Linked DNA regions of Homo sapiens: region 2 is linked to region 1. Evidence: fine-mapped expression QTL. Tissue or cell type: monocytes after R848. Region 1 holds a variant in brackets; the other region holds the start of a gene. All regions are shown on one strand. Distances are between the middles of the regions.

Evidence for each region. PIP is the estimated chance that this variant, and not a neighbour inherited with it, causes the effect.
Region 2: it holds the start of TTC32, and the variant in region 1 is fine-mapped to the expression of TTC32 in monocytes after R848 (Quach 2016, PIP 0.91).

What each region holds. Positions count from the first base shown.
Region 1 is chr2:19,779,491-19,787,594 of GRCh38, forward strand. No RefSeq gene overlaps it. Among named protein-coding and RNA genes, the nearest start is that of LINC00954, 85 kb to the right of the region's middle. RefSeq lists an enhancer at 6,656-7,855. The variant A/T (reference allele first, on the strand shown) is at 4,700.
Region 2 is chr2:19,897,765-19,905,852 of GRCh38, forward strand. TTC32 (tetratricopeptide repeat domain 32) reads right to left here and starts at 4,219. Exons shown (of 3, transcript NM_001008237.3): 1 at 3,942-4,219; 2 at 105-271. The coding sequence starts at 4,090. RefSeq lists enhancers at 3,180-4,061, 3,312-3,501, 3,642-3,701, 3,782-3,881, 4,062-4,942 and 1 more.

The DNA.
Region 1 (8,104 bases):
TCATTTGCAAAGAGAAGAGCAGCAAGAGAGGGGGTCAAAGAGGAGTCTGGACCACCAGAATGAAGCCTTGGAGGCCATAGCAAGGGCTGCACATTTTGTCCTCGTGCAAAGGGAAGCCAAAAAGGGACTCTACACAGAGAAGTTACATGACAATTTATTTATGTAACCATCAGTCTGGCTGCTTGGGGACGGTAGGTTGGATGGGGCTCTAAAATAGAATCAAGGAGATCAGTAAGTTGCAGAGAAGTTCGAGAGAGAGATGATGGCAGCTAGGCTAAGGTAGGGACCATAGTAAAGAAATGGATAAGTTTGAAAATATTTGAAGATAGCATCAACAGAATTGGTGATGAATGAGTATGAGGACAACCAAGGGGGAAGCAGGGAGGATGATGCCTCAGTTTTCCAGCGGAGTAGCTGGGCAATTAGAGATGCCATTTATTGAGACTGAGACTGAGGTGGAGCAGGTTTGAGAGAGAATAGCAAGTTCTTCCTTTGGAGCCTCTTAAGTTTGAGCCTGTGAGACTTCGAAGTGGAGATGCTAAGAAGGCAACTGTCATGCGAGTTTCAAATTCAGAAAATGGAAGAATTTAGGAGTTGCTGGCACATAGTTGGACCCTGGGGCATGGGACGCCTGTTCAAACTTTTGAGGTATTTGCCCAGTTCACAATCACCCAACCCCACAGCAACGCCTGCAGGTAGGAAGGCACAGCGCCACTGCTCTCAGCCCACACCTTTTCACTTTTGTCACCCTCTCCTTAAAGGCCTCCATTATTCCTTGTTACCCAGAAGATAAAGTCCAAATATCTTAGCCTGCAATTCAAGGCCTTCTGGGATCTGGCCTCCACCTTCCTTATCTCCCTATTGCCTTACATGTGTCTCTGCACCAGCAAACTGGCCTCTTGACTGTTCCTGACACACCAATCCCTTCCAGCCCGCACACCTTTGCTCACAGGGGCCCTTACCTGGGCTTCCCTCCTCCCTATTCTACAATCAAATACTACTCAGGGCAAAGAGGATTGGAAGTGCTGATCACAAACACAAGATATGGGATGAGCTTCAGTCTAGAGGAGGTTCCAGCAAAGGACAGGGCATCACACCCTGGGCCACCTCCGTGAGCACAGAAAGGATTCAAGGCAACATGACTCTCTTTACCCATCTGCTAAATGGAGCTGAATCAGGCTAGTTTTTCTAGGCAAAAAACAGGTCACAAAATGTCCAATTTTAAGATTATTCTCAATGTCTCTTTGCCAGGTTACCCTTATCTGAGCAAACAGAATTCATTTCCAAAATCAACTCTCCATAAATTGTATTTGGGAGAAACCCTTACATAACTTTAGATATAATTAAGGGGAAAACAGAAAATGGGGGTGGGTGGGCAAAACGGTATGGAGAAGCTGATTGTACCCATAGATTGAAAGGATTCTATTCATAGATTAAAAGCTGGCTTTTGGCCTTATTTAAAAAAAAAAATTCTTCCCATTAGGGTGCTTGAGATGCCTAGAGGTAGGGTCGGAGATAAATCTGGTACTTACCATGACAGGCTGTGGAAGGAGGATGCCAGCTGGCCCTATAGACAGATTCTGCTTCATGGCTTTAGGACCAGTAGTTGGGGAGCCCAAGGCAATGCCCATGGCAACAGATCACCTGTGCATTTAGGCAGTAGCTTTTCGTCCTTGTCTTTGGTGCTCACTGCCAGCTGGCATTACCTTCATGGGCTCTTCTTTCTGATGGGGACTGGAATGGAGGAGAGGGCTTCCCACAGGATAAAGTACTCTCTGCCTACCTCTCCAACTTCATATAGACCACTCTCTCCCTGGCCCCCAGAGCTCCAGCTGTTTAAATCTCTCAGTTTCTTGAACCCACCATGCCTGTTCTTGTCCAGGCACTTTTGCTCTGCTGTTCCCACTGCTGCAAAACACTCTGCCCCTTTTCTGGGCTCCCTGGTGATATGCTAGCCTTTCGTGACCTCCTGGATTAGGGTAGGGGTCCTCTTCAGTTCTCTGGCCTCACCCTACACCCTCACACCCTGCTTCTCACTCCTCCAGGCTGCTGACCTTGCCACACCTCAGGCTTATAGAGGGAAGACCTGTGTCTGCCTGGGGCACAGTGGCCTCCGTGGTGCCTAGACACGGTGATGCTTCCTGCATGTTTACTGATAAAGATGTGAAGGAGAGTGCAAACTGCACTCAGCTCTTCTCTCATTCTAAAGAGCCACAGGAAAAGGTCAAGGCTCTGAGATTAACCGGGTGAGCCTCAGAGGTCATTGGATATGTCAAGATCGAGAAGTAGAGGATTCTCACATGAGAAATGAGAGTCATGGAAGTTAGCTGCAAAACTGTGCAAACTTTTTGTACTAGCAGATTCAGTCTTCCCATCCAGAATGGAGGTGTCTTTGTGGTGGACTGTCTCTTCCTGCTAGTAACTCTCCCAGGGTATAGTAATGATATGGTTTGGCTGCGTCCCCACCCAAATCTTATCTTGAATTGTATTCCCATAATTCCCACATGTTGTGGGAGGGACCCAATGGGAGATAATTTGAATCATGGGGGCAGTTTCCCCCATATTGTTCTTGTGGTAGTGAATAAGTCTCACGAGATCTGATGGGTTTATCTGCGCTTTCTGCTTTTGCATCCTCCTCATTTTCTCTTGCTGCTGCCATGTAAGAAGTGCCTTTTGCCCCCCATCCCGCCATGATTCTGAGGCCTCCCCAGCCATGTGGAACTGTAAGTCCAATTAAACCTCTTTTTCTTTCCAGTCTCTAGTATGTCTTTATCAGAAGACATAAACAGACTAATACAGTAAATTGGTACCAGTAGAGTGGGGTGTGGCTGAAAAGATATCTGAAAATGTGGAAGCAACTTTGGAACTGAGTAACAGGCAGAGACTGGAAAAGTTTGGAGGGCTCAGAAGAAGACGTGAAAATGTGGGAAAGTTTTAAACTTCCTAGAGACTTGTTGAATGGCTTTGACAAAAATGCTGATAGTGATATGAACAATAAGGTCCAGGCTGAGGGGGTCTCAGATGGAGATGAGGAACTTCTTGGGAACTGTTAGCAAAGAGACTGATGGCATTTTTGCCCCTGCCCTAGAGATCTGTGGAACTTTGAACTTGAGAGAGATAATTTAGGGTACCTGGCAGAAGAAATTTCTAAGCAGTAAAGCATTCAAGAGATGACTTGGGTGCTGTTAAGAGCATTCAATTTTAAAAGGGAAACAGAGCATAAAAGTTTGGAAAATTTGCATCCTGACAATGCGATAGAAAAGAAAAATCCATTTTCTGAGGAGAGATTCAAGCCTGCTGCAGAAATTTGCTTAACGAGGAGCCCAATATTAATCCCCAAAACAATGGGGAAACTGTCTCCAGGGCATGTCAGAGGTCTTCAAGGCAGCCCCTCCCATCACAGGCACAGAGGCCTAGAAGAAAATAGTTTCCTGGGCCGGGCCCAGGGTCCCTTTGCTGTGTGCAGCTTAAGGACTTGGTTCCCTGTGTCACAGCTGCTCCAGCCATGGCTGAAAGGGGCCAACATAGAGCTCGGGCCATGACTTCAGAGGGTACAAGCCCCAAGCCTTGGCAGCTTCCAAGTGATGTCGAGCCTGCCAGTGCACAGAAGTAAAGAATTGGTGTTAGGGAACCTCTGCCAAGATTTCACAGGATGTATGAAAATACCTGGATGTCCAGGAAGAAGTTTGCTGCAGGGGTAGGGCTCTCATGGAGAACCTCTGCCAGGGCAGTGCAGGAGGGAAATGTGGGGTTGGAGCCCCCACACAGAGTCCTTACTGAGGCACCACCTAGTGGAGCTGTGAGAAGAGGACTACCATCCTCCAGACTCCAGAATGGTAGATCCACCTATAGCTTGCACCACGTGCCCAAAAAAGCCACAGACACTCAACACCAGCTCATAAAAGAAGCTGGGAGGGAGGCTGTACCACAGCGGCCGAGCTGCCCAAGACCATGGGAAACCACCTTTTGCATCAGCGTGACCTGGATGTGAGACATGGAGTCAGAGGAGATCATTTTGGAGTTTTAAGATATGACTGCCCCGCCCATCCCATTTGCCTCTGTTCTCTTTTTCCATTCTGCAGATGTTTGGAGTCAGATCACTGTCTTTGGAAGGCAGTGTTTGGAGGAAGAGCACTTGCCAAAAGACCTGGCTCTACTGCTGCAACGGGGAAGTCAGGCGCCTGCAAAGGGCTTGGTCAGGACAACAGCAGCTCACCTCCCTGGCATGGACTCCTAACAGGCCCCTCAGTATCAGTCAGATACAGCCCCAGCCATTTGCCTTCCCTGCCCCCACTGCCCCCACACCTTCCCTTGTCCCCATCACTACCCTGCCTGCTGAGAATGCTCACTCAAAATCCACCCCCACTGCAGGAAGCCTTCCCTGACCACTACCCTTCAAACACACACACACACACACACACACCATACACACATTATAAACACATACCACACACACACAACCCACACTACACATACCACACACACATATGGTATGTGGGGCCAGGGGCAAAATGATATGGTTCGGCTCTGTGTCCCCACCCAAATCTCATCTTGAATTGTACTCCCATAATTCCAACGTGTTGTGGGAGGGACCCAGTGGGAGATAATTTGAGTCATGGGGGCAGTACAAACACATACCACACACACACCCCACACTACAAACACATACCACACATACACCCCACACTACAAATACACA[A/T]CACACACACATCCCACACTACAAATACATACCACACACACACCCCATACACACACTACAAACACATACCACACACATACAACCCACACTACAAACACATACCACACACATACCCCATACACACAACACACACACTATACACATATACACACCACAGTCACATACCACACACGTTACATATACATACTACACACACTGTAAACACCATACACACATAACATGCCACACACATGCTACCCTACACACGCACACACATCCCTCCCACCAACCAGGCAACAGTGGCTTTCTTTTTCACAAAATCTGACTGCGTTGACTGCAGCTCTTCATGCAAAGCAACCAGAATAGTACCTGGCAAGTGTGGCCTTCTCCTTCCCCACCTGGGCCCTGAACATACCTGGTCTGTAGCCAGGGTTGCCCTACCTCTCCACAGAGCAAGAACCTGAAGGGTTTAGGTGGAGAGTGAGTCGACAGCCACATTCAGGTAACTGGGAAGATACCCAGGAGCGGGCTGGCCACACTCGGGGATGGTTTGAGGGTGATATGCAGATGACGCCACTCACCCCTGCAATGCTGCTTCACTCTTCAGAACCAGCACAGCCCAAACTGCTCAACAGTGTTTCATCCAAGCAAATGAGAGGCAGATTCCTTAATAAAGAAACAAAACAAAAGAGACCCACGCACTGAGAGTAGGAGGCTGGTTCTGACCTGACTCTGCCATGAACTCCCCGAATGACCTTGGACCAATCACTTGAGCTGCCCAGACCTCAGTTTACACTATATGTAAAAGAGGAATCGTTTTTCCCGGGGCCCTCTCACAGGATGGCTGTGATTACCCATGGAACAAGCAACAACTAAGGGCTTGCAAAGTTAAAGTGCCAGACAAAAAAGTCTCCCTGGTAGAGGTTGCAACTTCCTCAACCCCTGAGAGGTGACAAGGTAGATATCAGCAATTGGACTTACCTCCCAATCTAAGTCCAGGCATATGGCTTCCCCAATGCCATAAAGGGAAAGACAGGAAATTACTTTTTCCCTGAGGGTGCTGAACTAGGCAGATAGCCAGCCTATTGTTATTCAATGTCAGAGTCAAAAATCCTGAGAGACCTCGATACCCCTCACAACAGTGTCAAAACTGGAACAATCTTAACACACACACACACACACACACACACACACACACACAAAACTTTCACTTTCATCATCCCCGGGCATCCCACTCAGGGCATAAAGCACGCCTGGGAACAAGAATCACAGGTTTCCTACCTCGCTGGAGACTTCACAATGACCCAGGGCCCCTAAGAGTTCCAAATATAGTCCAGGCTCCCAGAGCCAAGGCAGTGACTGGCCAGAGCCTCCCCATTTAGGGGTACTGACCTGAGTGCCATCTACCCGTCAAAGTGCTTGAGCCACAACAACAACCCCTGAACGTGAGGCTGATTAAAGAGGGTTACGTGAACTGCCGAATTAAGCCGTCCAAAATTGGATAAAGTGATTGTGAAATCTGTTTTGAGTCAACCTATACATGTCTCATTGCAGGAAAATGTCTCGGTAAGAGTTCATGGAGAAAAAGTCTGGCAACTCATTGTTGGCTGACCTTCCTGGGCTCCTAATATTCAGTTCCCCAAAAGGCATCTTAGCCATGTAATTTCCAATATGGGAACAATTTGAGTTGCAATTAGGCAAATCTCAGAAGGTTCTGCCACTGATTTGTTCATTCTCTCAATATTATTCTATAGGACACACTAAAATACTGCACCAGGTTCACGCAGAGGACAATTAGGACTGCTGCATGTCAGGTTACAGAGGCTGGGTAAACACATCCATGTCGCCATTCAGGAATGGTGTCGTTAGGCCTGCAGAGCTGGGCACAGGGCCCTCTGCCCCAAAGGACACCTACTAATGGCTCTGTGGGGGACAGAGGCTGTTAGCAACCCAGAGCTTTGGGCTGTGGTGATGGCAGGTCCAGAGCAAGTGGAGAGGGGGTCAGGGTAGCTAGCAGCCGGAATGCAACCCTGGAGATTGTAGATGAAGGAAAGCTAACAGACAACCCCTGGCAGTAACATTAGATTTTGTTAAAAGCTACATCTTTCACTGAGCACCTCCTCTGTGTCAGGCTCAAGCCAGGGCCCAGGGACACTGAGATGAAAAAGACATAGCTCTTGACCTCAAGAAGCCCAGTGGGAGGGCATATCAGCAAGCCCAATTATGATAAAAGATAAATTACAATCAAGATACTATTTTCAAAAGTGCCAAGAAAGCACAGAAAAGGAAGAGTTTGATTCGCCTGCAGTGTAAGAATAAGCTTCCCATCGAAGGGCATATTTGAGCAAGCCTTGATGCATGGCTAAGAGTAGGGCAGGTAGAGAGGAGAGAAATGGCCATTTTAGAGGAGAATGCTTGGTTGGGATGAGTTGGCACTTTCTGAGCCATGAGTGCCTCCCAAGGACTGAGTCATGTTCCTCTTTTTCAGTAAGCAAAAACTGCTAGTCTTCAGTTTATCTCAGGCCTGCCTCCAGGGAGAAGAAACTGTCATTCCAGTCCCCTTTGAGGCATATTTGGGTTTCCCCGGACTCCTGTTATGATTTGCTCTTTGTCCCCAGGTGGCTAGTTTACTCCCAGCGAAGAGGAATGTCTGGATTCTCCTCTAAGCCCTTTGCACAAAGTGCAGAAGCTGTCTCATCCCTTCCTGACCAAGCACATGACTCCGACCAGATTCTGCTAGAATTCAAGCATAGGTGAGGGCAAAGCCAGCCTTGACTGGGGACCTGCAGAGCAAGGCCTGAGTCAGGTTTATCTTTGTTTTTCCTTTGCCCCCACACCTACTCAGGCCCAGCTCTCAGGATCAAGTGTGTGGGTGAGTGAAGAAGCCCAAGTCAATAGCCGGGCAGTGCCTGGATGGTTAAGGGAGCACTCAAATCTCAACCTTGGGATCTGGTTAAGGGGCCGAATCACAAGCAGGAGAGAGGGGAAAAATGGGGCAATTAGTCTCAGGAACGAAAGGCAGAGGTAAGTTGTGTCAGGGCCACGTGTGGAGTGAGATTCAGGGACCATATAGGTCTGGAAGCCAGGAAGGAGAGTGGGTCGCCACCGGGCAAACCCAGCTTCCCAGAGCAAGAGAACCTTAGGAAGCATGCAGGGCGACTGCGGAGGCAGAATCAACAACTCAGCATGGCTCCGCGTGGTGGGCATCCTGCTAAAAACCACCTTCCGATCACAGTGGGAGTCGATTTGCACTTTGTAAACAGAGTTCCCTTCCCTGACACAGGAGTACCCCTTCCTCCATGAATTTCCTTTGGCATCTTCCTGCAGGTGACATGGATAGGCAGCTGCCACTTTCCACCCACGAAGAAACCCTGAGGATGAAAACTACCCAGGAACACTGCATGACAACTGCAGCAGCCCCGCACT
Region 2 (8,088 bases), 120 kb after region 1:
AGAACTTTAAAATTTGATTACCACGTTAGTTTTACAACATTTGAAAGCTCTGAAATAACAGAATACAGTCAATGACAAAACTCAAAAAGAAAAAAAATTCTTACCCAGCCTATACAGTATCAACCCTCTGTTGTAATATGGAACTTCAAAATTGGGTTGGACTTCTATGGCAGATGTGTAGTCATCCATGGCTTCATAAAAATCAACCCTGAAGTACTTGATTTGCCCCCTGTTGTTATATGCAGTAGCCAAATCCTCAGGGCTGCATTTGCTTTAAACAAAAAGTTCACATTAAAAACACCGTGTTACCAAATTCCTCTCATTTCCACTTTCATTCTCTTTTGGGTATTGTCAAACTTCACAGCCTATAACATGCAGCATCAACACTGAAAATCCAAGCTGAAGAAAAAACGTACAAATAAAGAGCTAAAATCAATTTTTGTTTAACCCTGTTATCTACTTTTGTAGGGTTATACCACTGCAATGTCAACCTGAAAAGCATACTAACTTTACAGTGTGTTCACTGCCAATTTGTTCTGCTGAATATAACATTAAAATGATTGTTCATTTTTCTAAGCACACACCAGCAGGGCAAAGAAGACAGAACAGATAAATACTAAGCAAAGAGGGAAAGCCAGCCCAAAGCCCGAGTTTGCTATGGATATGTCACAATGTGAATCAATTTCATTCTCAAATTTTTAAGTGATCTTAAAACAATAAGATTTGAAATCATTTTCCACCAATAAAAAACTAAAGTTAACGCTAAGTGAAAATTCAACATGCTACGATCCCCAGGAAGTTATCTCTGGGGACAGAGTTGCCCTCCCTCCAGCCTCAGCTGGCATCCTCCCCAATGCCAGGCTGGCTTCCTGCTAGGAGGGTGGGCTCCTTTAGACCCCCTCAGGGCTCCAGTCAATTTTGATGTCCTTTGTGCAGAACTGGCTCTGCACCTGAGGGAACTAGAGGTTGCCCAAAGAGCTTTAAATTAGCAGCCATTCCTGGGCTGTACAGCCAGGTAGCTCTGACCAGCCACCAGCTCAACAGGTCACAGCCCCTGGCTGCCTTGAACCTTTCTCTGCACAGGACAAATAGTCTGCACAGAGAACATTAGTGCCTCTGCTCTGAGTCAGGGATGATTCTGTTTCCCTTTCTTTTTTCCCAAAGCAATTCTCAAATTAGAACCAAACAGAGAATTCATCTGTCACTTCTTTGTAATACCCCGTAGTAAAAAGTATAGTCCTCCGAAAGTATCTGTGAAGGCAGTTAGTGTAAATAAAAGCTACTTCTCTTAATATCTTGATCCTTGAGATTTCAGACAGGGACTGTAACTACTGCTACCCTAAGAGGCACTCACAGCCCAAGGGCCTCCTTCAAACCAAGTTTGCTAACGATGGAGAGGAACTGTCGCAATTTTAGAAAACGTCTATTCTATGAGCTGTGATGGAGACTGGATGTAGGGATACTTCTGGATGCCACTAAGCACCCCCGTTAAAACCTAGATTACAAGACGGTACCACTCCCCTTCACCTATGTGTGACATGACACTAGTTGAACTGCTCCCAGTAGAGAGTTTAAAGAAAAAAGCAATCTCAGGATGCCAGTAAGGTTTTAGTCATTAAATCGAAGTTTCAAAATTATTGTTATAAGTTTTTAATACTAATTATATATTCGTAATATAGAGAATCATAAAATGTTAGACTTAGAATTAGATCTCATTAAATCAAATTCTAAAATCGTTTTCATGTGGAAATTTTGTTTCATATTTTAAAGAAATGGACTAACAGTTGAAGCCGAAATTTTCTGTAATATTAAAATTTTTGTAATGATAGTATTTATTATAATGGAATTCATTCAAGTTACCTAACCCAAATGTGAATTTTTAGGATTTGCTAACTTTCGCAAAAAAAAATATTTTTTATATATATATAAAGTGTGTGTATATATATTTTTTATATATAAAGTGTGTGTATATATATACACACACACTTTGGAAATTAGGTTTATGACTAAAGCTATACTTTAGATATTAAAAGAAAACGTCACAAACCATTCAGAATGAAAGGCATTCAAAAATTGCAAATATTGTTTCAAAATGATTTAGTGACCCAATACTTAGAAAATAAATGTAAGCTCCAAAAGATAAATTGAAGGGAAAAAGTTGAAATGACAGAATTCAGTTTCAATCCTTGAGTTCCTAGAATTTTATCAAAAGCTTATTTTACAGATGAAAAACTGAGGCTGAGACATTAGCCATGTGGCAGTGCCAAGACTGGAATTCAGGCATGATGAACTCCCTTCTACTGCGCTATGACAAACTGTCTTTCCTGTGCTGGTAAGGCATAGCTATTATATATGCTACAGACACTTGTGTTCTTAGGCTGAGAGGTGCAAAGAAGGAAGAATAACAAGACTAGACAGCAACAGCATACCTGATGCTGATAAATACTTTTTAAAATCTACTAGGTAAGTCTACTCTTAGAGCTTGAAACATGAATAGTTTCGCTTTCTATGTTTACTTATCTTTTTTATGGGGGAGGTGCACTGAGGAAAGTAGATGGTATCATCTTATTGCCTGTTCAGAAACTTCTATTATTATTCTTGTGTGTTATTGAAATGAGAAGGCAATTTTCTTTCTGGTTTAATTCCATGTAGCGTAACAAACAGGGTAAGAATCAAGTCCTTAGTGTTTAGTTAAGCCTCATACAAAAGACAAGCTGGCATCCTGTCCAGAAAACTCAAATCCACAACAGACAACTCACAACTATTCAAAAAGCTGTTCAACCAACCCCTCTGTTCTTTTCTCATCCTGATCCACTCCATACCATCAACAAGCCCAGTCGAGGCAAGACTTGGAGTAAAAACAAATGCTACACATCCAGGCACAAGCCGAAAAGATGCTTTGGGCAAGCAGACAGTAACAGGTGAAGCCGCTCACATCACAAAGAGAAAGTCAGCGAATCGTTATGTGCTTCCTGGTGAAAGTACACACACCCACCTAAAAAGTATTCTTGCCATGATATTGAATCTGAATTCAATTGGATCAAACCTCAAGGTTTAACCACCAATTCACAGCAATATGAGACAGATGACCACATTAAACGACAGAAGAGATTCAGTCAGCAAGTCCAAAACACGGAAATTCAAAGGACACAAGAATCGGTTTCCTCAACAAATAAAGAGGGGAAGGTGGAGAAGAGACTTAAAAAGACTTGATGTGTATCCTGACTTGAACTAACTGCGAAAAGGGAACCAAAGAACAAAACACCTTATTAGTCGATCAGAATGGTTCCAACACTGACGACTTGATATTAAGTAACTATGTGATGATGACATGGTGGTTCCTTCTGAAACATCCATGGATGAATACAATAGGTAAACTGATAATGCTTAAGCCAAGTGATAAACACCTAGACGTTCGTTATGCTCTCTTCCACATATTTAAACGTTTTTCACAAGTGAAAAACACCACCAAGAGCCTGCGCCGTGACACTGAGATGGGAGTCGCGGTACTGTGGCCCTACGCAGCCGTGACCCCTTCCCTTCCCAGGTCGCGGATTTCCCGCCAGCTAAAATCACGAGTGGAAAATTCCTATCTGTCCTAAGTCTCTGGGTGCGAATGAGGAACGTGGAAGGAGAGACGGCGGGGTGAGAGGCGGCGGCCCGCGCCCGAGGATCGCGCAGAGGGCTTGGTTCCCGGAAATCTCTCCGCACCGTCGCGGCAGCTGGCTCCTCACGGGTGGGCTTCTCCCCGCGTTCTCCGCCGCCCTCGTCCTAGGCCTCGCCTAGGCCTTTCTAGAAAGACGAACGTCCGCCCGCTCAGTCCTAGTGCTGGGTTATGACAAGCGCCGACCGTGAGCTCCAGAGGCAAAGATAGGAGCCCAAACAACCCCAACGTCGCCTCCACCCGGGGTCGCCGCGGCCCCAGGTCTCGCGATAGTTACCTCCCGGGACTCTCGTCGCTGGAGGCCGCGCAAGCGCACCGGCGAATGTAAGCGGAGTACAGTGCCTCGGCCTCCGCGTACTCTCCATTGTTGAAATGAGCCTGGGCGAGTGTTAGGGTTGCGTGGCTTTCTTGCCGCTGTCCTTCCATAGCAGCCAAGGCCTAGTTTTCGGTGTAGAATGGGGGTTGACCTCCGAGCGGTTAGAGGTGGCACCACAAAGCCACTTCCACACCCTGGAATCTACCTTGACAGCCAACCTTGGCGCTAGGTTTGTGCCTTATGGGGATCCGTCGTCTCGCGAGATAACGGTTCCGCTGCTGGCGGGGCGTTTGCAGTGGCCCTTGTGAACTATGTTTCTGCCGTTACCAGTGTTGGACCCGCCTTCCTCTTTTCCTAGAAAAGGCGCAGATGCGTGGTCGCAAACTGATTTCCAAGTCCGTTGTCTGATGCTGCGAGACACTATCCGTTTGTTACAGCGAATTGGGGGCCGATGACGCTGGAGGTGGAAGAAGCCGCGGTTCTGTTTCTTAATGGCGAATTAGCCTGCGGACGTCCTGTCATTCCCTTGCCTTTTAGCGTCCCAACTTAGCAAAACTCCGCGTTTAGGGTGTTCTGAGTAGGCTTTGTCTACCCTGAAACGCTTTGTGTCGACATTCCACCAGGTCTGTTCCACGGTCCAAACTTCTCTACCTTTTTTGACCCTCTAGAATTGTGTTACGATTAGTAGTATATTGTGTCGAGAGTCTGGGATCTTTGATGTTAGTTATATTCCCTGGCTGTTTATGCCAAAGGGAAATCCAAATAGTAATTTATTACGTACATTACGTATAATTCAAATTAAAATTTTGTAAGAACAGTTGCCAACCACGCTACCCTACATGCCTGCTGTGTATCTTCTCGGCGTCCCTCGATTCTGTTTTGCTTCCCAAAGTACTTGAGCCCTTTCCGTCATAAAAAGTAAAGATGAAAAATATATTTGGAGCATGATACTTACATGCGGAAGTCTTAACAGGACATAAATTGTGTGCTTTTGGCTGCTTTCATTAGATTTTTAATTTTTTCCTTTTACCACCACTGAAAAAAATACAAATACAGTGGATTAAGGTTAAATTAAAAAGCACTAGTAGAAATTAAAAGATTGCAAGACTACAAAAAAATAAACTGGCATTTCTGGTGTAAGCAAATGGACAGCTCAATAGAACAAAAGCCCAGAAACATACCTCAAATAGGCTGTATTTTGTAAAAGACATGTAACATATATGGGGAAAGGACAGATTATTCAAATGAGTGCTATTGGGAGGATTAGTTAACCATTTGGGGAAAAATACATTTAAGCATTTAAGCTCCCAATTGACATAATATTCATTCCAGGTGAATTAAAAGATTAAATAAATAAGATAAAAAGCTTTTTTTTTTCAGTTCCCATTTATTTTTGCCTCTTGGAGCAATGTCATCTTTTCAATATGAAAAAAACAAAACAAAAAACAAATCTGAAGTACAGGATAGAACAAAACCAAGTGTGTTGGGGGAAGCAACAGCAAAGGGAAGACAAGATGTTGCAAAAAAAAAAATGGAGGGGGGATTCCCCTCTCCTCTGGGGAATGACTCAAACACTGATGTGGCAGCGTACACTATTCTACATAAAGCCAGGGATGTTAATCCTTTTGGGGGATAAGAAAAAGTGGAGATGGCCAGGCTCTGTGGCTCATGCCTGTAATCCCAGCACTTTGGGAGGCCTAGGCGGGCAGATCACCTGAGGACAGGAGTTTGATAACAGCCTGGCCAACATGGCAAAACCCCGTCTCTACTAAAAATGCAAAAAATTAGCTGGGCGTGGTGGCGGGTGCCTGTAATCCCAGCTACTCATGAGGCTGAGGCACAAGAATCCCTTCTGGGTGGAAGTGGTTGGCAGTGAGCTAATTTTTGTATTTTTTGTGGTGATGGGTTTCCCCATGTTGTCCAGGCTGATCTCCAACTCCTGGGTTCAAGACATCTGCCCACCTCAGCCTCCCAAAGTGCTAGGACTACAGGCATGAGCCACCGCACCTGACTAGAAGTTTTGCTTTGTTCTGTTCAAGGAATAACAGGAATATTTATGTGTCTAAAAACCAGTGATCTAAGAGGAAAATAGCAGGATATGTAATGGAAATTGGGGATTTGGGAAGGGGGTTTCTAAATAGGAGTAAGATTCTTAACCTTTTTTGTGCTATGGCACCTTTACAAGTGTGGTGAAGCCTATGTCGTTTCAATGTTTTCAAGTGTTTTTAAAACATAGGATTACAAAGGAAAGGAATTATATTAAAAAACAGTTGGAATATTAACAGATTTATTAAAAAGTAAAACATTTATTAACATTAAATATCAAGAACAAATGGCAAACACAAAACTAGCAGAGGAAGAAAATAATAAAAGATCAAAACACAGATAAAACAAAAATGGAATCAACAAAACCAAAAGTTGGTTCTTAAAAAGATTAAAAAAGTTAATAAAACTTGAGCTAAATTGACTACGAAAAAGGAAAAGACTCAGATTACTAAAATCAGAAATGAAAATGGGAACATTACCATCAATTCTACAGAAATAAAGAGGATTATAAGAGAGTACTATGAACAATTGTATGCTGAAAAATGGGAGTAACTACATGAAATGAGCAAATGCCTAGAAACAAAAAACCTACGAAGATTGTATCATGAAGAAATAGAAAATATGAATAGACGTGTGTATTAGTCTGTTCTCACACTGCTAATAAAGACGTACCCAAGACTGGGTAATTTTTTTGTTTTTAAGAAAAAAGAGGTTTAATGGACTCACAGTTCCACGTGGATGGGGAGGCCTTATAATCATGGCAGAAGGCAAACAGCACGTCTTACATGGCAGCAGGCAAGAGAGAATGAGAGAACAGTGAAGGGGGAAATCCCTTATAAAACCATAAGATTTTGTGAGACTTAGTCACTACCATGAGAACAGTATGGGGGAAACTGCCCCCATGATTCAGTTTTTTCTCCCACCGGCTCCCTCCCACAACATGTGGGAATTATGGGAGCTACAATTCAAGATGAGATTTGGGTGAGGACACACACAAACCATATCAACCTGTAACTTGTAAGGAGATTCAATCAGTAATCTAAAAATAACCTCTTGACAAAGAAAAGCCCTGGACCTGATGGCTTCACTGATGAATTCTACTAAATGTTTAAGGAAGAACCAACACCAGTCCTTCTTAAGATTCCATTTAAAAAATGGTTATAACTAATGAATTCAGCAAGGTAGGAGGATATGAAATCAACATGCAAAAATCAGTTGCATTTTTATTCACTAACAATGAAGCTATCCAAAAATGAAATTAAGAAAACAATTCCAGCCAGGCACAGTGGCTCACACCTGTAATCCCAACATTTTTGGAGGCCAAGGTGGATGGATCACTTGAGGTCAGGAGTTCGAGACCAGCCTGGCCAACATGGCAAAACCCTGTATCTACGAAAAATACAAAATTTAGCCAGGTGTGGTGGCAGGCACCTGTAATCCCAGTTACTCAGGGGGTGAGGCAGGAGACTCACTTGAACCTGGGAAGTGGAGGTTGCAGGGAGCCAAGATTGTGCCTTGCACCACTGCACTCCAGCCTGGGCAACAGAGCAAGACTCTGTCTCAAAAAAAAAAAAAAGAAAGAAAAGAAAACAATTCCATCTACAGTAACATCAAAAAGAAAAAAATATTTAGGAATTAATCAAGAAAGTAAAAGATGTGTACAATTAAAACTATAAAACATTGCTAAAAGAAATTGAAGAAGACATAAATGGAAAGACATCTCATGTACATGGATTAGAAGACTTAATATTGTTTAGATGTTAATATTATATAAATCAATCTTCAGATTCTATGGAATCCTTATCAAAATCCCAATGATGTTTCTGCAGAAATAGAAAACTCCATCCTCAAATTCATATGGAATTACAAGGACTCCCAAATAGCCAAAACAATTTTGGAAAAAGAACAAAGTTTAAGGACTCACTTCCTGATTTCAAAACTTACTGCAAAGCTGCATTACCCAAAACAAGTGTGTTATTGGCATAAAGACAGTTTTTTAAACAAATGGTGCTAGGAAAATTGGATATCCACTACAAAAGAATGAAGCTGGTCTCTTACACCA